Linked DNA regions of Homo sapiens: regions 2, 3 and 4 are each linked to region 1. The links come from fine-mapping of genetic effects on gene expression. A gene starts in region 1. Each other region holds a variant in brackets. All regions are shown on one strand. Distances are from middle to middle.

The links.
Region 2: its variant is fine-mapped to the expression of MRPL49 in whole blood (INTERVAL, PIP above 0.99).
Region 3: its variant is fine-mapped to the expression of MRPL49 in whole blood (INTERVAL, PIP above 0.99).
Region 4: its variant is fine-mapped to the expression of MRPL49 in fibroblasts (GTEx, PIP above 0.99). The same link has a PIP of 0.9 or more in gastroesophageal junction and tibial artery.

What each region holds. Positions count from the first base shown.
Region 1 is chr11:65,120,081-65,125,228 of GRCh38, forward strand. MRPL49 (mitochondrial ribosomal protein L49) reads left to right here and starts at 2,241. Exons shown (of 4, transcript NM_004927.4): 1 at 2,241-2,344; 2 at 4,422-4,572. The coding sequence starts at 2,267. It overlaps FAU (FAU ubiquitin like and ribosomal protein S30 fusion), which reads right to left and starts at 2,054. Exons shown (of 5, transcript NM_001997.5): 1 at 2,010-2,054; 2 at 1,659-1,741; 3 at 1,420-1,564; 4 at 901-956; 5 at 550-726. The coding sequence starts at 1,733. The coding sequence ends at 601. RefSeq lists enhancers at 2,012-2,101, 2,262-2,531.
Region 2 is chr11:65,147,983-65,153,130 of GRCh38, forward strand. No RefSeq gene overlaps it. Among named protein-coding and RNA genes, the nearest start is that of SYVN1, 16 kb to the left of the region's middle. RefSeq lists an enhancer at 2,774-2,823 and a silencer at 4,732-4,911. The variant C/T (reference allele first, on the strand shown) is at 3,058.
Region 3 is chr11:64,976,087-64,981,234 of GRCh38, forward strand. No RefSeq gene overlaps it. Among named protein-coding and RNA genes, the nearest start is that of MAJIN, 6.6 kb to the left of the region's middle. The variant G/A (reference allele first, on the strand shown) is at 2,075.
Region 4 is chr11:65,225,628-65,230,775 of GRCh38, forward strand. It overlaps the pseudogene SLC22A20P. Among named protein-coding and RNA genes, the nearest start is that of POLA2, 34 kb to the right of the region's middle. RefSeq lists an enhancer at 243-442. The variant G/A (reference allele first, on the strand shown) is at 2,889.

The DNA.
Region 1 (5,148 bases):
CAACTTTTGGGAACACTGAAACCTCACTATATCCAATCACAGATGTGATTAGGTTACCAAGTCCGGCCAGGCAGTCACAGAGGTACAAACGAGGCCATGCTCCCAACATAATATTTACTTCTAAAACCAAGGCAGACCAGATTCCTGCCCTGGACTCTAAGGCCACAGCTGGTACCAAGTTCAGGGAACGGCCAGGTTCACCTTCTATACAAACCTCTTCCCCCACCCATCCCTTCTATTGCTGCCTCCATAACAAACCTCTCACCACAGTGATTCCTGCTACCTTCTCTGTTTAGAAGATGAAAAAGAATGACCTGGGGGGACTGATCAAGTTACTTAGGATAGGGAATAACCCCAATTTTACATCTGAAGCCCCCCAGGATCTGTAGCTGTTTCTTCACAGGAAATTTCTCTTGTAGTTTACCATTTCTTCCCCCCATACCAAAGGCTTCTGCCTTTTCTGCCTCACTGTTCTCCTAGGGGACATACCACCAACCCGAGAAGCACACCTCTCCCTGAGGCCTTGCAAGTAAAGATGAAACAATGCGATGACTGAACTAAGTGGCTTTTTTATTAGAGAAAGCCAGAATTACAAAAGACTTAAGAGTTGGCATTGGGGCCCTTCTTCTTGCCAAAGGTGGGCACAACGTTGACAAAGCGCCGGTTGTACTGCATCCGCCGCTTAGCCCGACCTGTCTTCTTCTTCTTCTTCTCCTGTTTGGCCACCTGGAGAAGGGAAGGTTAATCAGGCCCTGGTTCCTGTCTTCCACACCTAGCATCCCTTCCCTCAGGCTCATCTCCAGGGAGGGAGAAGGCAAACCGAGTAAGAGCCCAGGGACTTGGTTTAGCTGTGAAAGGAAAAAAAGTCCTAACACCATGACCACTAATACTCTCACTCACCTTAGGAGTCTGACCTCTCACTTTTCCAGCACGGGCCAGGGAACCATGGACTTTACCTGTAGTGGGAAAGGAAGGCACCAGCAGGTAAGAGCAAGAAGGTGCCACCCAGCAGAACCCCTCTTTTCTCAATTCAAGCCTTTAAAGAGAAGCTGCGCCCAATAGGTAATGAGAACAAAGTTGCAGATATTTGACCTTGAAATCTTAAGTTTCATTTCAGGATCTTCCAGCTTCTAATTTTATAGAGCACTTTGGGGGCCCTGGTCTGACCTAATTTTAGTGTGGAAGCTGATAACCAGACTAGGATCTCGTGATGTGACTGAAATACAACTACACTCTGGCTCAGTCTCCCATGGACGTCTGTGTTCAACATGAGGGATGTAAACAGGAAGAATCACTCTGAACTGAAGACAGTGAGAAGTACTCTATTACCATAGGTGTGACACTCAGCTGTCAGGACTATGCACCCCACACTCACTAGACGCTTACCGGTACTTCAAAGAACATTCCTCTCTCACTCACCTCCAAGCATGCGGCCTGCTACTTCCAGGGTAGTCAGGGCCTCCACCCCGCACTGGCCCAGAGTGGCCTCATCCTCCAGGGGCGCGCCTGCCAGGAGCACGACTTGATCTTCCGGGGCAATGCCCTCCAGTGAGGCTACATGAGCCTACAGGGAAAGATAAGGCTCGTAAGCGTTCCCTCGGGCCGCGAGAGTGAAGAGCACAAGAAAATGGAACCCAGGGCGCACCAAGCAGCCTTACCTTGATCTGGGCGACCGTTTCCTGGCCGGTCACCTCGAAGGTGTGTAGCTCCTGGGCGCGGACAAAGAGCTGCATATTGGCGACTGAGTAAAGAAAAGACGGCTTGTAAGAGAAGCCAAGAAATGCTCTGGGATAAAGGAGATTTGGGAGTGGAAAGCGGTCCAGAAACGATCGCGACGGGATGGTGGTCGCGGCGGCTCACGTGGGGAAGGCCAGGCCTCCCAAGGAGTTCGGATAGGGACTGGAGCAGGGCCACGGAGCAGGCCCCGTTCTTCGGTTCCCCCCGCGCCTTCTGACCCCGCAGCCAACCTGCTACAAGCCCTTCGGATCCAGCCAAGGCCCCATTCTTACCTGAACGGCGGTCCCAGCTACCGCGAAGATGGAGTCGAGAAAGAGGAAGAAGCGAGGGCGCGTCAGTACAGACCGTGGGCTGCGTGTCACGTCACTGCTGAGCGACCGCGCGGTTCCCTGCTATTTGTACCGCCCAAGGCAGTCCTAGCTCCGCCCCTTTACGCTCGCACCGGCGAACCTGCCTGGGCAGGCAGCTCGCGCAGGACGGGGCGGGACCAGACAGTTGCGCGCACAGAAGGCTGGCGTAGCAGGTAAAGATGGCAGCTACCATGTTCCGGGCTACGCTGCGGGGATGGAGAACCGGTGTCCAGCGGGGCTGCGGGCTACGGCTGTTGGTGAGAGCGCTGAGCGAGGAGCTGAGGGCATCGCGTGGGTGTGAGGCTCAGTGTTAATCATTGTTAACCCCGAAAACTAAGGCATTCCTACTTGGGGCCTTAGTTTTGCCGTTTTCGATCAGGAGAACTTGTCCCGAGTGTACATATAGAATCGAGAGGGAAAATGGTAGACTGGGGTGCTCTTTGGGAGCACTTAACACAGTGCCTGGCAGTGTCTATATAAGCCACAACGTTTCAGGTAAGGGGCGGGGTCCTAGCATATGAGTGTGCGTGGGGAATTATGATTGCCTTAATTCTTTTTTTTTTTTTTTTTGAGACGGAGTCTCGCTCTGTCGCCCAGGCTGGAGGGCAGTGGCGCGATCTCGGCCCACTGCAAGCTCCGCCTCCCAGATTCACGCCATCCTCCTGCCTCAGCCTCCCGAGTAGCTGGGACTACAGGCTCCCGCCACCATGCCCGGCTAATTTTTTGTATTTTTAGTAGAGACGGGGTTTCACCTTGTTAGCCAGGATGGACTGGATCTTCTGACCTCGTGATCCGCCCGCCTCGGCCTCCCAAAGTGCTGGGATTACAGGCATGAGCCGCCGAACCCGTCTGATTGCCTTAATTCTTAAGGCAATCATAAGATTAAACATCACTATATCCCGTCACAGATGTGATTAGGTTAGCAAGGCCAGCCAGGCAATCATGGAGGTACAAACAAGGCCACGCTGCCAATATAATAATATCTATTTCTAAAACCGAGACAGAAAGTTAAGCCTTAAGTTTCTAAAGGCTTGATTGACTTTTCAGAAGTGTACATATACTCTTTTGCATCCCACAGAAATCCTGAGAGGCAGACCATTCAGAGTACCTGAGCCTCCTTTCCATCCCATCTGTACCCTGCACCATGGAAAACCAAAGACTGGTGCTATCTTATGTCAACCTAAATAACAGACTCTAAAAGAAAAGGATATTTATTCGGGAATGGGTATAGACTATGTGCTTATCAGGGAGGTAAAAGAAGACAAAGGTTTTTAACAGAAAAATGGGCCAGGCACGGTGGCTCACGCCTGTAATCCCAGCACTTTGGGAGGCCAAGGCGCGTAGATCACCTGGAGTCAGGAGTTTGAGACAAGCCTGGCCAACATGGTGAAACCCGTCTCTAGAAAAAATACAAAAATTAGCCGGGTGTGATGGCGTGTGCCTGTAGTCCCAGCTACTTGGGAGGCTGAGGTAGGAGACTTGCTTGAACTTGGGAGGCGGAGGTTGCAGTGAGCCGAGATCACACCACTGCACTCCAGCCTAGGTGACAGAGTGAGACTCTATCTAAAAAAATAATAAAAATAAATAAAGGAAAGGAAAAATGAGTATTACATAATTGTTTTGAGACAGTTATCCTTGGCTACAAGGATGAATAACATGGGTGGTGCCAGTTCAAGATTGGACAGGCAGTTGTTGGACAGATGGCCATGCAGGAATTTGTTTTGTTTTGTTTTGTTTGAGAGAGTCTCGTCGCTCTGTCACCGAGGCTGGAGTGCAATGGTGCGATCTTAGCTCACTGCAACCTCCACCTCCTGGGTTCAAGCAATTCTCCTGCCTCAGCCTCCCAAGTAGCTGGGATTACAGGCATGCACCACCATGCCCGGCTAATTTTTGTATTTTCAGTAGAGATGGGGTTTCGCCATGTTGGCCAGGCTGGTGTTGAACTCCTGACCTTAGATGATCCTCCTGCCTCAGCCTCCAAGGTGCTGGGATTACAGGCGTGAGCCACCTTGCCCAGCCAGAAATATTTTTTTGTGTAAGGTTGAAGTGGCCTTTGTGCAAGGCTGTGGTTTTTGCAGTCTTTTGTGGTAGTTCTTGTTATTAAGTATTTGTGCCCAAGAACTCTCTCTTCGTGGCCCTCCCTAGCTCTATTTGTTGGGATTTTTAACCCAAGTGACTCACTCCATTTTGATTCTGATAGCTTTCACACCGTCGCCCAGCCTTTTATTTATGTCATTCTCTCTGCCTGTAATGTTTCCATTCTCTACTTACTGAAGTTATGCCATCCTGTGTTGGGTAGGCTAATGGAGAAATGGGATTTTTGTTTTGCTTCAGAGCCAGACCCAGGGCCCTCCAGATTACCCCAGGTTTGTGGAGTCTGTGGATGAATATCAGTTTGTGGAGCGCCTGTTACCGGCTACCAGGATCCCAGATCCCCCAAAGCATGAACATTATCCTACCCCTAGTGGCTGGCAGCCTCCCAGAGGTGAGCTGGGTGGTTAGGGATGATTTGAAAGCTTCACGGAGCATCACCTCCTCCCCAGAGGTTGGCCTCCCCCATGAGGCTCTGGACTCTCCAGTGGGTTCAGGACTCATTTTGCAATCCCTCTGGGTTACATCTGTCTCATGCCCAAGGAAGAGCCGAGGAGTGGAGCCTTCTGTTGTTCACTGGTACTCATCCATCCACACTATTGAGATCAGGTCTTCCCCATATGGGGGAAAGTAAACAACAGAGAGAAAACCCAAGAGCTTGGACCTTCTTTCCCCCCAGCAGACTATGTACTGTAATTAAGAACACAGCTTGGAGTCAGGCAGTTCTGGGTTTGAATTTGGCTTTATTTACTGTTGATGTTATCTTGAATTAGTCACTTAGCTTGACCCAACCTGTTTTAGCAAAATGGAGATAATCTGCTCAGTACATAGAGCCCTTAGTGCAGAGCCCAGCATATGGTAGGTGCTCAGTGCTTGCAAATCCCAATCTCTTTGTTCCAGAGATTGATTTCGGCCTCCCTGACCCAGTGGAGGAGGGCAAGGGTTGGCCTAGAGGGGGACCCAAAGATCC
Region 2 (5,148 bases), 28 kb after region 1:
AAGAAGAGCTGTCTCAACCAGGCCTTGCCCAAATTGCATAATGGTAAGAAAATAAATGATTGGTATTGTCATAAGCCTCTAGGTTTGAGAGTGGCTTGTTTCACAGCCCTAATCTAATTTGACTCCCTGTTCTTGGCCCCAGACCCAGGGCCTGCCACAGAATAAGAACTCAGGGAGTGTTGAAGAAGTGAGTCAACAAATGATTGGGCTGAGCGTGGTGGCTCACGCCTGTAATCCCAGCACTTTGGGAGGCCGAGGCAGGTGGATCATCTGAGTGAGGTCAGGAGTTCAAGACCAGCCTGGCCAACAGGATGAAACCCCATATCTACTAGAAATATAAAAATTAGCCAGGTATGGTGATGCGTGCCTGTAATCCCAGCTACTCAGGAGGCTGAGGCAGAAGAATCACTTGAACCCAGGAAGTCGAGGTTGCAGTGAGCCAAGATAGCGCCACTGCACTCCAGCCTGGCTGACAGAGTTAGACTCTGTCTCAAAAAAAAAAAAAAAAAAAAAAAAAAAAAAAAAAAAAAAAAAAAAAAAAGACTGGATTGGCTAAGTGGATGATGGATGATTGAATGGTTGGATAAGTGAATTGTGTTAAGCCTGACAGGTCTAGAGTGATGAGCTGTGGCAGAATCAGGGGCTCAGAGTCCAGTAGCTTCAAGGAGGATGAGAAGCCATCTCTGCTGGAATTGTTATAAATAATTTCCTGGGAAGGGTCCCTGGCAGATCTACTTGGAGTGGCATTGTCACAGGCAGTGCATACTCAGCTGCTCAGGTGAGACACTAACTGCAAGCCCAGAATCTGGAAAGCTCCACAGTGCAGTGGGCCCAGCCTTACTATCCCTGCTGGAACCACACCAGCAGAAGGAGTGCCCGAGGGCTGCTACCTGTCTCCCTCGACTCCACTTAGTTCCAAATGTAAGTCTCACATGATTGAAACTGTGGAAGGAGGCTGGGTGCGGTTGCTCTCACCTATAATCCCTGCACTTTGGGAGGCCAAGGGGGCGGATCACCTGAAGTCGGGAGTTCAAGACCAGCCTGACCAACATGAAGAAACCCCATCTTTACTAAAAATAAAAAACTAGCCAGGCATGGTGGCACATGCCTGTAATCCCAGCTACTTGGGGGGCTGAGGCAGGAGAATCACTTGAACCCAGGAGACAGAGATTGCAGTGAGCCGAGATCACACCACTGCACCCCAGCCTGGGGAGCAAGAGTGAAACTCAGTCTTTTAAAAAAAAAAAAAAAACCAGAAGGAATATATGTAACTCAAGTTTTGTGTGGTTTTTTTTTTTTTTTTTTTTTTTTTTTTTTTTTTTTTTTTACCGTTCCAGCCTCTGTGGTCCAGGCAGCCAGCTGGGAGAAGGCTGAGACAGATGCTCAGTGACAAGTGTGAGCTTGCTAATCTGACAAAGGCCTTTCTAAGGGGGCATTTGGATTTCTGCATGATATGCTTCCAGCCTGCCTCCTAACCCCACCAAATCCTCATCATGCACTTTGTTATTTATTTATTTTTGAGACGGAGTCTCACTCTTGTCGACCACGCTAGAGTGCAGTGGTGTGATCTCGACTTACAACAACTTCCGCCTCCTGGGTTTAAGCAATTCTCCTGCCTCAGCCTCCTGAGTAGCTGGGATTACAGGCACCTGCCACCATGCCCAGTTAATTTTTGTATTTTTAGTAGAGATGGGATTTCATATGTTGGCCAGGCTGGTCTCGAACTCCTGACCTCAGGTGATCCACCCACCTCAGCCTCCCAAAGTCTGGGACTACAGGCATGAGCCACCTTACCCGGCCCTCATCATGCACTTTGTATTGTGGTCAAACTTAACTTGTCTCATTCCCCAAACTCTGCTTGCCTCTTCAGCCTAGCTATCTTCACTTTTGCTCAAACCTATATAAAGTAGCATGCTTTTCCCTTTCTTCTTTGTCTGGAAAATTCTTAGTGCACACCCTTACACATTTCCAGCATCAGCCATGAACCTGAGTGAGTCTCTCCCCACCACATGGTGCCTACAGCATTTGTCCCTGTGTGAACACAGCCCCTATGACCCTGCATTGTAATCACTTCTGTGTCTGTGACATCCTTCAGGGCAGGGCTGAGAATAATAAATGTTGGGCAGTTACAGTTTTAACCTTTATGTCAATCCTGAGTCAGGTACTATTATCATATCGGTTTCATAGATGAAGAAACTGAGGCTCAGAGAGATTAAGTAACTTGCCTGAGGTTTGCCCAACTAATAGGGAAAGACAAAGTCAAGATTTAAGCCCAGGTCGGGTGCGGTGCCTCACGCCTGTAATCCCGGCACTTTGAGAGGGCAAGGGTGGGGGGATCACCTGAGGTCGGGAGTTCGAGACCAGCCTGGGCAACATGGTGAAATCCCATCTCTACTAAAAATACAAAAATTAGCCAGGCATTGGGGGTGGGTGCCTGTAGTCCCAGCTACTCGGAAGGCTGAGGCATGAGAATTGCTTGAATCCAGGAGACGGAGGTTGCAGTGAGCCAAGACTGCGCTACTGCACTCCAGCCTGGGTGACGGAGCGAGATTCCTTCTCAAAAAAAAAAAAAAAAAAGACTTAAGCCCAGACAGGGTGGCCCCATGGCCCTTCTCTCAACCCCCGCGCTTTGTAACAGGTCCATTTTCTCATCCCCATGGCAACTAGTCATTTTATTACTGAGAAAACAGATATTCTTGAGGTTACAGAAAGGAAGAAAAATAAGAAAAGAAAACAGATGTTCGAAGAGGCTAAGAAAGTCAGCCAGAGTCACCCTGCTGGCGTGTGGCCGGGAGGCACTCTATCTACTTCTCTGACACTGCGCTGCACCTCCAGTGAGGGCCTGTGGTGACTTCTTCCTCCTATTGAAGCAGTGTCTCGGGGCTGAGTCATTCCCAACAGTTTCTGTGCAAAGCCAGGGAACAGCCACCTCAGGCCCCTTGGCAGGCTGCCACCCTAGGCAGTTGTCTCGAGTCTGGGTGTCCTCGGAGGGCAGAGCAGGGACAGGAGGCTGATGTCCCCTCCCTCTGCCAGGGCACGGGCAGCCAGGCAGTGAGG[C/T]CACATTAGGACTCAATTCAGGCTGGCCTGAGCATCTGAGAAAGGGAAGTAGGATAGAGGGGCAGGCTGGGGACAGATCCATGGGCAACATGGATCACCCAAGACTAGTACAAAGAAAGGGGCTGGGGCACTAAGGTACAGATTGGGCAATCAGCACACAGTATGTGCCAGGTGCAGGGCTGGGTGCTGGGATTCCAGGGTGAGCAAAAAGACACCTACCCTCATGAGACTCCTGCCCAGTGCAGGAAATTCAGGGCACATACCTTTTCTCCTACCGCTCACACCTGCTCCTCCTGCCTCCTCATTTTTCCTTCCAGCTAGAATGGGTGGAGTTTCCCTCTTCCCATTCATTCACTCTATTATTCACCCAAGTATTTATCCAGTGCCCACCTTGAACCAGGTCTTGTTCTAAGTGTCATGAATGTATTAGCAAATGAAATAGAAAAAAGTCCCTTCCCTTATGAAGCTTACAGAATACTAAAGACAAAAAATAAACCAGGAAGCACGTAGAGAAGTGTAGAGAAGTGATGACTTTGAGAAATCAAGAAGGAAGAGGAGTCGAGCAGAAGAGGAGGACCCAGAAGCTTTGAAAGGAAGAGAGAGGTTGGGCATGGTGGCTCATGCCTATGATTCTAGCACTTTGGGAGGCTGAGGTGGGAGGATCACCTGATCCCAGGAGTTTGAGACCAGCCTGGGCAACATAGTGAGACCCTATCTGTATAAAAAAATAAAAATAAAAAAGAAAGGAGGAGAAAGATGGCTGTTCCATTCTAGTAGGAGAGGAGGCAGAGAAAGTGTGTACAGGTGCAGATTCAGGTAAAATAGAGGAGAAGAAAAAGGGAAAGAGGCTGGGCGCAGTGGCTCACACCTGTAATCCCAGCATTTTGGGAGGCCAAGGGGGGTAGATTGCTTGAGCCCAGGAGTTCAAGACCAGCCTGGGCAACATGGCGAAACCCTGTCTCTACAAAAAATTAGCTGGGCTTGGTGGCACGCACCTGTGGTCCAAGTTATTCAGGAGGCTGAGGTGGGAGGATGGCTTGAGCCCAGGAGGCAGAGGTTGCAGTGAGCAGAGATCAAGCCACTGCACTAAACAGCCTCGGTGACAGTGAAACCCTGTCTCAAAGCAAAGAAAGAAAAAGAAAAAGGGAAAGAAGTCATGTTGGAGCTTTGCAGAGAGAGGAGAGGGTGTGATTAGTTACCTCAGAAAGTGGAAATGTGATTCTGAATGACATTTTTGTAAGAAAAAAAGTGGAAATGCGAAGTTTCTAGACATCTGCAGTGTGATTGCCAGGGAACATGAATGGCCAAGGAGTTTTGTAGCTGAGTTGAAAGTGAAACAATCCTCTGGCTGTCTGATTTCCTCTTATTCCAGTACAGGCACCAAGTAGGATGGTTCAACCAGGGCTTGAGTCTCCCAGGTGAGGTGGTTTTAGGAATGTCCATGCATTCTAGATGCTCCTCCTTTCTTTCTCTCTCTCTTTCTTTCTCTCTCTCTTTCTTTCTTTCTTTCTTTCTTTCTTTTTTAGACAGAGTCTCGCTCTGTCACCCAGGCTGGAGTGCAGTGGCACGATCTCGGCTCACTGCAACCTCTGCCTCCCAGATTCAAGTGATTCTCCTGCCTCAGCCTCCTGAGTAGCTAGGATTACAGGTGCGTGCCACCATGCCTGGCTGATTTTTGTATTTTTAGTAGAGATGGGGTTTCACCATGTTGGTCAGGCTGGTCTTGAACTCCTGACCTCATGATCTGCCCGCCTTGGCCTCCCAAAGTGTTGGGATTACAGGTGTGAGCCACCGCGCCTGGCCTGATACTCCTCCTTTCAAGACATGGAACCTCGCTCCCCTCCCGCGAATGTAAACTGGACTTAGTGACTCACTTCTAAAGAATAGAATCAATGAAAGTGATGGTGAGAGACCTAGGAGAGCTGGCACAAACACACTTTGGCTTCCTGTCTGCACTGTCTCTTGGATCTCTTGCTCTGGGGAAGCCAGCTGCCATGTCATGAGACACTCAGCAGCCCTGTGGACAGGTTCACATGGTGAGGAACTGAGGCCCCCCAGCCAATAGCCGTGTAAGTGAACCACCTGGGAAGG
Region 3 (5,148 bases), 140 kb before region 1:
ACTGTGCCTGGGCTATTTATTTATTTATTTGAGATGGAGTCTCGCTGTTGCCCAGGCTGGAGAGCAGTGGTACAATCTCGACTCACTGCAACCTCTGCCTCCTGGGTTCAAGCAGTTCTCCTGCCTCAGCCTCCCAAGTAGCTGGGATTACAAGTGTGCACCACCACACCCGGCTAATTTTTGTATTTTTAGTAGAGACGGGTGTTCACCATGTTGGCCAGGCTGGTCTGGAACTCCTGATCTCAGGTGATCCGCCTGCCTCGGCCTCCCAAAGTGCTGGGATTACAGGTGTGAGCTACCATGCCCGGCCCTCTCCTGGTCCCTTTCTCCCAGGGACTCCCAGAAAGGCTTCTCAGAGGGGCCCTGGTCACATTGTCACATTCTGTAACTGGCTTTCCTCCCCCTAAGCAGTTCAGTCTGAGAGCCCCAGAGAACAAAACAAATCCTGTCCTAGGAAGAAGCCTAGCACCTACTGAGGAAGAATTGAGTGCTGGGAATAGGGCCCCCATTAACAGCCAGCCCCTGAAGCTCTTAGGGAAATGCTCTGCAGACCCATGATCTCCCCAAGAGGGTCAGAACCAGGTCTTGTTCCTTAGAGAGCTGCTGCTGCTTCTTGGGCCTGTGCAGCTTCCCAGCCTCCAAGGCTGAGGGAAGGAGCCACTTAATCAACAGCTCCATTTCCTGCAGCACCTGGGGCTCCCCAACCCCTACCACCTCCCTTTGGGCTTCCCAGGTCAATTACCTGCCAGGCAACGGGCCTCAGCTCAGAAAATCTGACCAGCCAGAGACTGGTCTGACGGGGCCATGGGGAATTGAAATGACTTGACTCAGAGAGGCAACCCTGGGGGTAGGGACAGGGGGATCTGCCCCCACCCTTAGGGTAGTGTAATTCAGTCTTCAGTTTACCACTCCCTCTCTGTGTGTTGGGTGTCTGACTCACAGTAAGGCTGTGAAACCCATTGACCATCCAGGTATGAGCCTTGTGGAGATTGAAGAGGTGATGGGGTGGGATAGGTTTGCTCAAAGAGGCCTCCAAATCCTTCCAGGCTCAGCCCAGACCTTGAAGGCCTTTTTGCAGTTTTAGTAACACGAGCCGATTCCTGCGGTTGGTGGCTGTCACAGGACAGAAGCAGAGGACCCCAGCAAGGAGGTGAACCACTAACCCGGGAGTCCCCTCCCCAACCACAGAGATCCTTCAGAAGAGCTCTCTTTGGCTATGTTTTGTGTTTGAATCTAACTCAAAAGACCAAGCTGTTAGAGGCTCAAGTGTTCCCAAGAATCGTCCATGAAAACTGTTGTAGACACTGGGTCCAGGCCCACCCCAGGGAGTCAGACTCAGGAGTCTTGGCATGATTGAGAGATCTGTCCTAGGTTATTTTTACCCTGACTGGAGTCTCTTCCCTGTCCGCCCCCTCACCAGATAAACAGAAGCCAAGACACAAGGAGGAAAGCTTGCAAGGGCCTGGGTACGCTGTCGGATGTAGTGGAGGCAGGACTGGCCTCTCTGGAGAGACTTCAGCATTCTCTGCTTTGAAAAACGGGGCTGTAGACCTTTTAAAATGGCATGCATTTCTGCAGGAACACAAAGACACTTACAGTCCCCAAGGAATAGTCTCTCTCCTGCAGGATGGGAATGCCCCCAGAAGGCACTGAACCACTAATCCAAGAGGAAAGTTCTCAGATTCCTTCTTGCCTCAGGTCCCCCATATCAGACCTGAGGTTTTTCCTTCAACCCTCCCTGAGCACAGGCTCTGATCTGTCCATGGTTCTGATTTTTAATGGATTTCACTTGGGGGCAAGTCATGAGTTTTTTCATTCACTTGGAGTAGTTAACACTTACTGAACACTTACTATATGCCAGGGACTGTGAGCTACTCCTTACACGCAACCCCCTTTTTCCAAAGTAACCAGACATAATAGAAAAAACCACAGGTCAGGCTGGGCGTGGTGGCTCACGCCTATAATCCCAGCACTTTGGGAGGCCGAGGCGGGCGGATCACGAGGTCAGGAGATCGAGACCGTCCTGGCTAACACGGTGAAACCCCGTCTCTACTAAAAATACAAAAAATTAGCC[G/A]GGCGTGGTGGCGGGCGCCAGTAGTCCCAGCTACTCGGGAGGCTGAGGCAGGAGAATGTCGTGAACCTGGGAGGCGGAGCTTGCAGTGAGCCGAGATCCCACCGCTACGCTCCAGCCTGGGCGACAGAGCCAGACCCTGTCTCAAAAAACAAAACAAAACAAAACAAAAACCCACCACAGATCATAAATGTGTAGCTCAGTGAATTTTCTTTTTCTTTTTTGAGACAGAGTCTCGCTCTGTCGCCCAGGCTGGTCTTGAACTCTTGGGCTTAAGCCATCCTCTCACCTGGCTTCCCAAAGTGTTGGGATTACAAGTGTGAGCCACCATGCCTGGCTGAACATATACTTTTCTATTATACCTATCGTATTAGTTCGTTTTCACACTGCTGACAAAGACATACCTGAAACTGGGAAGAAAAAGAGGTTTAATTGGACTTACAGTTCCACATGGCTGGGGAGGCCTCAGCATGGCGGGAGGCAAAAGACACTTCTTACATGACAGCAGCAAGAGAAAAATGAGGAAGACGCAAAAGAAGAAACCCCTGATAAACGCATCAGATCTCGTGAGACTTACTCACTGTCACGAGAATAGCACGGGAAAGATAGACCCCCATGATTGAATTACCTTTCCCTGGGTCCCTCCCACAACACGCGAGAATTCTGGGAGATACAATTCAAGTTGAGATTTGGGTGGGGACACAACCAAACCATATCACCTATCTACATTATACATTCATATATTTGTGTATATACACACACACATATATGTTGGGTGGACTGTAGGTGGGTACCTTTTTAAATCTCCATTTTCCAGATGAGAAAGCTCAGTCTTGAAGTTGAATGAGGAAATAATAGAGCTGAGATTTGAACCTAATCCTGTCTGGCCCTGGAGCCTAAGCTGTTTCACCACTAACCGCTATGCTCCACTGCCTCCGAAAGCATAGGCTTTTTTTTTTTTTTTTTTTTTTTTTGAAACAGAGTCTCGCTGTCGCCCAGGCTGGAGTGCAGTGGCACGATCTTGGCTCACTGCAGGCTCCATCCCCTGGGGTTCACGCCATTCTCCTGCCTCAGCCTCCTGAGTAGCTGGGACTACAGGCGCCTGCCACCACGCCCGGCTAATTTTTTTTGTATTTTTAGTAGAGACGGGGTTTCACCGTGTTAGCCAGGATGGTCTCGATCTCCTGACCTCGTGATCTGCCCACCTCGGCCTCCCAAAGTGCTGGGATTACAGGCGTGAGCCACCGCACCCGGCCAGCATAGGCTTTTTAAAACTACTCATTGGCCGGACACAGTGGCTCATGGCTGTAACCACAGAACTTTGGGAGGCCGAGATGGGAGAATCGTTTGAGGCCAGGAGCTCGAGACCAGCCTGGTCAACATAGCAAGACCCCATCTCTAACAAAAATTTTAAAAAGTAAAAAATTAAAAAATAAAAGTATTCATTATGTGTCGGCCAGGTGTGACTCACGCCTGAGAATCTGGTACATTGGGAGGCCGAGAAGGGAGAATCACTTGAGCCTGGGAGGTCAAGGCTGCAGTGAGTTGTGTTTGTGCCATTACACTCCAGCCTGGGCCTCCCTGTCTCAGTAATAATAATAATCATAATCATTATGTGCCACACTGGTTGCTATCATTGAGGGAGGGAAGAGGGTAGCAAGACACAGTCACACAAAAAGGAAGATGACAGAAAAGCACAGGACGGGCATGGAGAGGAAAGCAGGTCACTTTTTTTTTTTTTTTTTTTGAGACGGATTTTTGCTCTTGTTGCCCAGGCTGGAGTACAATGGCATGGTCTTGGCTCACCACAACCTCTGCCTCCTGGGTTCAAGCGATTCTCCTGCCTCAACCTCCCGAGTAGCTGGGATTACAGGCATGCATCACCATGCCCGGCTAATTTTGTATTTTTAGTAGAGACGGGGTTTCTCCATGTTGGTCAGGCTGGTCTTGAACTCCCAACCTCAGATGATCCGCCTGCTTTGGCCCCTCAAAGTGCTGGGATTACAGGTATGAGCCAACGCGCTGGGCCTGCAGGTCACTTTTATCTTGGAAGATTACAGGAGGCTTCCTGGAGAAAGGAGCATTTGAAAAGGAAGGATGGGGCCGGGCGCGGTGGTTCACGCCTGTAATCCCAGCACTTTGGGAGGCCAAGGCGGGTGGATCACTAGGTCAGGAAATCGAGACCATCCTGGCTAACACGGTGAAACCCCGTCTCTACTAAAAATAGAAAAAATTAGCCGGGCGAGGTGGCGGGCGCCTGTAGTCCCAGCTACTCAGGAGGCTGAGGCAGGAGAATGGCGTGAACTCAGGGGGACAGAGCCTGCAGTGAGCCGAGATCGCGCCACTGCACTCCAGCCTGGGCGACAGCGAGACTCCATCTCAGAAAAACAAAAAGGAAGGATGGGGGCAAATTCTGGGCATGAAGGAGTGATAAGGGAAAGACTATCAGGCTGAGAGCTCTGGGTGCACAAGAAAACACAGGCTGCAAAGGCCCTCAGAGGTCATCTTGCCCATCTCTCATTGTCCACCAACCTACTGATGGCTTCCAAATTTATTTATCCAGTCCTGACATTTCCCAGACTCCAGACTCTTATTTAAACCAGTTGGATGTCAAATAGGTATCCCAAATTTAACATGGCCAAAATAGGGCTCCTGATCCCCACCACCAAACCCCAAACTGCCCCTCTTCCAGCCTTTCTTGGTTTTTGGCACCACCAACCATCAATTGCTCAGGTCCCAAATCTCAGTCATCCTTCCTTCCTCCCTTTCACCACACTCAGTCCATGAGCATATCCCATCAGCTGTATCTGTAAAGCACACCCTGAATCCGACCACTTCTTTTCTGTCAGTTTTTAAGTTTTGTGAATACACAGTAGGCATGCATGAGATGTTTTGAATACAAGCATGCAAGGCACAATAATCACATCATGGAGAATGAGGTATCCACCCCTTAAGCATTTATCCTTGGTGTTACAAACAATACAATTACACTCTTTTAATTATTTCCAAGTGACAATTACATGATTATTGACTATAGTCACCCTATTATATGCCATCAAATAGTAGGTCTTATTCAT
Region 4 (5,148 bases), 110 kb after region 1:
TTGCCCTTCGTCCACCTTCCTCTTTCCGCGAGGGAGAAACAGATCCTGAGTTCAAAATTCCAGAGCTGAAAGTCCTCTCTTGGATCCTTCTGGAAACAGCAAAAGCCCGTTTTTGCTGAGAAAGTGACTCGGCAGCTATCCGGAGCTCTCTGCCTGCAGGTGGGGCCATTCTCCTATGGAGCCGACCCGACCCGCTCAAAGCTGCCCCGGGAACCGCAGGTTTGGTTCGCGCACGCCGGGACTTGCCAACCGCACCCGAAAAATCGGGGCCATGTCCAAATGTTTCGCTTCGCTGCCGGCAGGGAGCCGCGCCGGGCTCGCTCCTGGGATCAACTGCACAGTCCTGGCTTTGGGGAGCGGGAGGCGGTGAGCCTGCCCGCCCCCCGACCCCTTCCTCACCAGTGTGTCTGGGGTGAGGTGGGGATGGGGAGTCCTGGGGTTCGAAAAAGGATGGGGGAGGAGAAAGAGGAAGTGTTAGGAACTGGTGAACTTTCACAAACTTCCACAAACCCTATTGTAAATGCCTTCAATTAACTGGGATTTTTTTCTTTACTGGTTGATTGATTTAAGACAAGGTCTTGCTCGGGCACCCAGGCTGCAGTGCAGTGGCACAATCATAGCTCACTGCGGCCTCGACCTCCCAGGCTCAAACGATCCTCCCACCTCAGCCTCTGTAGTAGCTAGGACTACAGGTGCCTGCCACCAAGCCCGGGCTCATTTTTAAAAATAGAGATGGGGTGGGGTCTTGCAATGTCGCCCAGGCTGGTCTAGAACTCCTGGACTGAAGCGATCCTCCCCCTTGGTCTCCCAAAGGGCTGGAATAACAGGGTTGAGCCACCTTGTAGTTTTTTTCTAAATTCTGAGAAGCATGCATACTCATTGTTAAAAACATTTTTTCCCCAAACAATCCAGAAACAGGCAGTGTAGTTCATTGGTTAAGAAGCAGGACTCGAACGTACTCCTTTGGTTTGAATCTCAGCTCTGCCACTTACTGGCTTTGTGATCCTTGACAAGTTACTTAACCGCTCTGTGCCTCAGTTTCTCCATTTGTAACATGGGCATCATAATAGAACCTACCACATAAGGCTGTTGTGAAAATTAGTCTGTAAAGCAGGTAGAACAGTGCCTGAATATGAGTTGTTTTCTGTTATCAGGTACATAAGTGCATGTCCCTCTCAACCTACTCTCCCTTCCACCTCTGAACATCTCCCATCTCCCATTTCTGTCAGGCATGAATTTGTATCCTTGCAGCTCTTAGTACATACATGACACCCACATACTTACACACACACACACACACACGTTCTTATAGAAATGGATTTAATAGGGGCTGGGTGTGGTGGCTCATGCCTGTAATCCCAGCACTTTGGGAGGCCGAGGTGGGCGGATCACTTGAGTCAGGAGTTCGAGACCAGCCTGTCCAACATGGTGAAACTCCATCTCTACTGAAAATATAAAAATTAGCCAGGTGTGGTGGCACGCACCTGTAGTCCCAACTACTCAGGAGGCTGAGGCAGGCGAATCACTTGAACCCGGGAGACAGAGGCTGCAGTGAGCCAAGATCTCGCCACTGTACTCCAGCCTGGGCAACAGAGCGAGACAGAGTGTCTCAAGAGAAAAAAAAAAAAGGATTAATACTCTACCTCTTCTGCTTTTGTTTTTTTAATAACTTAATCACATCTGTAAAAACTTTTACAACATTACATGTAACCAGCTTCCGGCATGTGATAGCTTTGCAATAAATATTTGATGAGTGAATGAACCAATGAGTGAATGAATGAATTTTAGAATATTGTGAGCCACAGAATTATAAGATGAAAAGGAATCTTAGAGAATGTCTGGTCCATTCTCCCTGCCACTGCCAATCTCGCCTGAGTGGCAATGCTGGCTAGTCGTGGTCCAGTCTCTCTGGGAAGACTCCGTTTCTAGAGCTCACATTCTCAGGAGCCTTTCCCCCTTCTTTCCTCCTAGGTGAGCAGACACGTTAACAAGCAAAAGAACTGAATGTAAAACTGGTGGTTTTTGACTGAGTGTCCCTCAAATTTCTCAATGGCCACTTTATTTTTTGTGAATGTTATAGTCTTATATTGCTTATAACAAATCACCATAATTTAGTGGCTTAAAATAACACCCATTTATGAGCTTACAATTCTGCAGGCCAGAAGTGCCAGCTGGGTTCTCTGCTCAGGCTCTTAGGAGGCTGAAACGAAGCCTCCTTTCTGGAGGCTCTGGGGAAGAATTCACAGCCAAGTTCATTTCAATTGTTGGTTCGATTTAACTGCTTGCAGCTGTAGGATTTATGTCTCCATTTCCTCACAGGCTGTTCATAAAAGCCACCTACATTCCTGGCTAAGTGGCCTCCTCCACCTCAAAGGAATATCTTCCTCATATCAAATCTCTCCCATGCTTTGAATCTCCAACTCCCAGTCTTTGACCTCTAGACCCAGATTTAAATCTCATGTTATTAGATCAGGCCCTCCCAGAAAAATCTCTGTTTTAAAGTTAAGTGATTTGGGACCTTAATTACATCTGCAAAATCCTTTCACAACACCTAGATTAGTGTTTGAATAACTGGGAGAAGGTTTGTGTACACCCGGGCCAGGAATTTGATGGACCATCTTGGAGTTCTTCTTCCCACATACAGGTTTATTTGTTTTTTTGTTTTTGTTTTTGTTTTTGTTTTTTCAAGGCAGAGTCTCACTCTGTCACCCAGGCTGGAGTGCAGTAGTGCCATCTCAGCTCACCGCAACCTCTGTCTCCTGTGTTCAAGCAATTCTCCTGCCTCAGCCTCCTGAGTAGCTGGGACTACAGGTATGTGCCACCATGCCCAGCTAGTTTTTGTATTTTTAGTAGAGACGGGTTTTCTCTATGTGGGCCAGGCTGGTCTC[G/A]AACTCCTGACCTGAAGGGATCTGTCTGCCTCAGCCTCCCAAAATGCTGGGATTACAGGCATGAGCCACCGCACGTGGCCCACATATACTTTTTATTGAAGTATAACACACATGCAAAAATGCACAAGGCTCAGCTTGACAAATTCTCACAAACTGTACACACCCATTAATCAACACACTGGTCAAGAAACAGAACATGATCAGCCTCCAGAAACCCCGTCCCCCCATGTCTTCTTCAGTCATTACCCTCCCCTATGGGAATCACTATCCTTATTTCTAATGCCACAGATTACATTAGCCTGTTTTTGGGCTTTATATAACTTGAGCTACATAGTTTTTGTAATTTATACCGTTTGTGAGATGCACTCATGTTGTCATATGTAATTTAGTTCGTTCTTTCTTCGTGTATAACAATCCATGGTACGAATATACTACTTGTGGTAGACAGAATAATGACCCCCAAAGATGTTTGAATCTTTATAGCTTTTCTGTAAATATATATTTATTACAAAATAAAAATTATTTTTAAAAAGCAAGGTATGCAGTAGAATAAGATACTTGCAGAAACCAATATCCAACAAAAAACCATATCCAGAAAATATATCTACGTCTATATATAATGTATATATATTACTAGAAATCAATAAGTAACATTCGTCCCCATCCTAATCCCTGGAATCTATAAATATGTTACCTTCTATGGCAAAAGGGACTTTGCAGATGTAACTAAGGATCTTGAAGGAGGATTACCCTGGATCATCTGAGTGGGCCCAGTACGATCACAAGGGTCCCTACAAGTGGAAGAAGAAGGTCAGAGTGAGAGAGAGACCTTTGGAGACGCTGTGTGCTGCTGGCTTTGAAGACAGAGGAAGGAGCCACAAGTCAAGGAATGCAGGCAGCCTCTAGAAGCTGGCAAAGGCAAGCAAACAGATTCTCCCATGGAGTCTTCAGAAGGAACACAGCCCTGCCCACACTCTGACATTAGCTCAGTAACACACGTTAGGCTTCTCACTTCCAGAAGTGTAAGATAATACATTTGTGTTGTTCTATGGCACTAAATTTGTGGTAATCTGTTACAGCAGCAATTGGAAACTAATACAGAAACGTTACCAATTTTTTTTTTTCTGAGACGGAGTCTCGCCCTGTTGCCCAGGCTGGAGTGCAGTGGCACGATCTCAGCTCACTGCAACCTCCTCCGCCTCCTGGGTTCAAGCAATTCTCTGCCTCAGCCTCCCGAGTAGCTGGGACTACAGGCGCGTGCCACCACGCCCGGCTAATTTTTTGTATTTTTAGTAGAGACAGGATGGTCTCAATCTCCTGACCTTGTGATCCGCAGATCTCGGCCTCCTGAAGTGCTGGGATTACAGTCGTGAGCCACCGCGCCCAGTCTACCTATTTTATTGCTGAAGAACATTGGGCTTTTCCCAGGTTGGGCTGTTACAAATACTGCTGCTATAAATATTCTTGTACATTTCTCTTGGTGAAAAAACACACTTGTCTGTCCTTCCTTCCTTCCATCCTTCCTTTCTTCCTTTCCTTCCTTCCTTTCCTTCCTTCCTTCCTTCCTTCCTTCCTTCCTTCCTTCCTTTCTTTCTTTCTTTCTTTCTTTTTCTCTCTTTCTTTCTTTCCTTAAATATGGAGACAGGATCTCACTATGTCGCCCAGGCTGGTCTCAAATTCCTAAGCTCAAGCAATCCTCCCACTTCAGCCTCCCAAAGTGCTGGGATTACAGATGTGAGCCACTGCACTGAGCCCACGCTTGCGTTTCTGTCAGATACATACCTAGGATTGGAACTGCTGGATCATAAAGTATGGGTGTGTTTCTCTGTAATAGAAGCAAGCAGTTTTCCAAAGTGGTTATACCAATTCACACCCTCATTAGAAGCATATGAGTTCAACTTGTTCCACATCCCTAGTAACACTTGGTATTGTCTGTAATTTAATTTTAGCCATTATAGTGAGTGTGTAGTGATACTGTACTGTGATTTCCAATTTGCACTTCTCTGATGTCTAAGGAATGTAAAAATATTTGCATGAACTTATTGGTATTTTGGATGGCTTTTTTTTAATGAAATGCTTATCCAAGACTTCTGCCAATGTTTCTACAGGGTTATCTTTTTTCTTATCGCCTTACATAAGAATTTTTTTTTTCTTGGCCAGGCGCAGTGGCTCATGCCTGTAATCCCAGCACTTTGGGAGGCTGAGGTGGGCAGATAACTTGAGGTCAGGAGTTTGAGACCAGCCTGGTCAATGCAGTAAA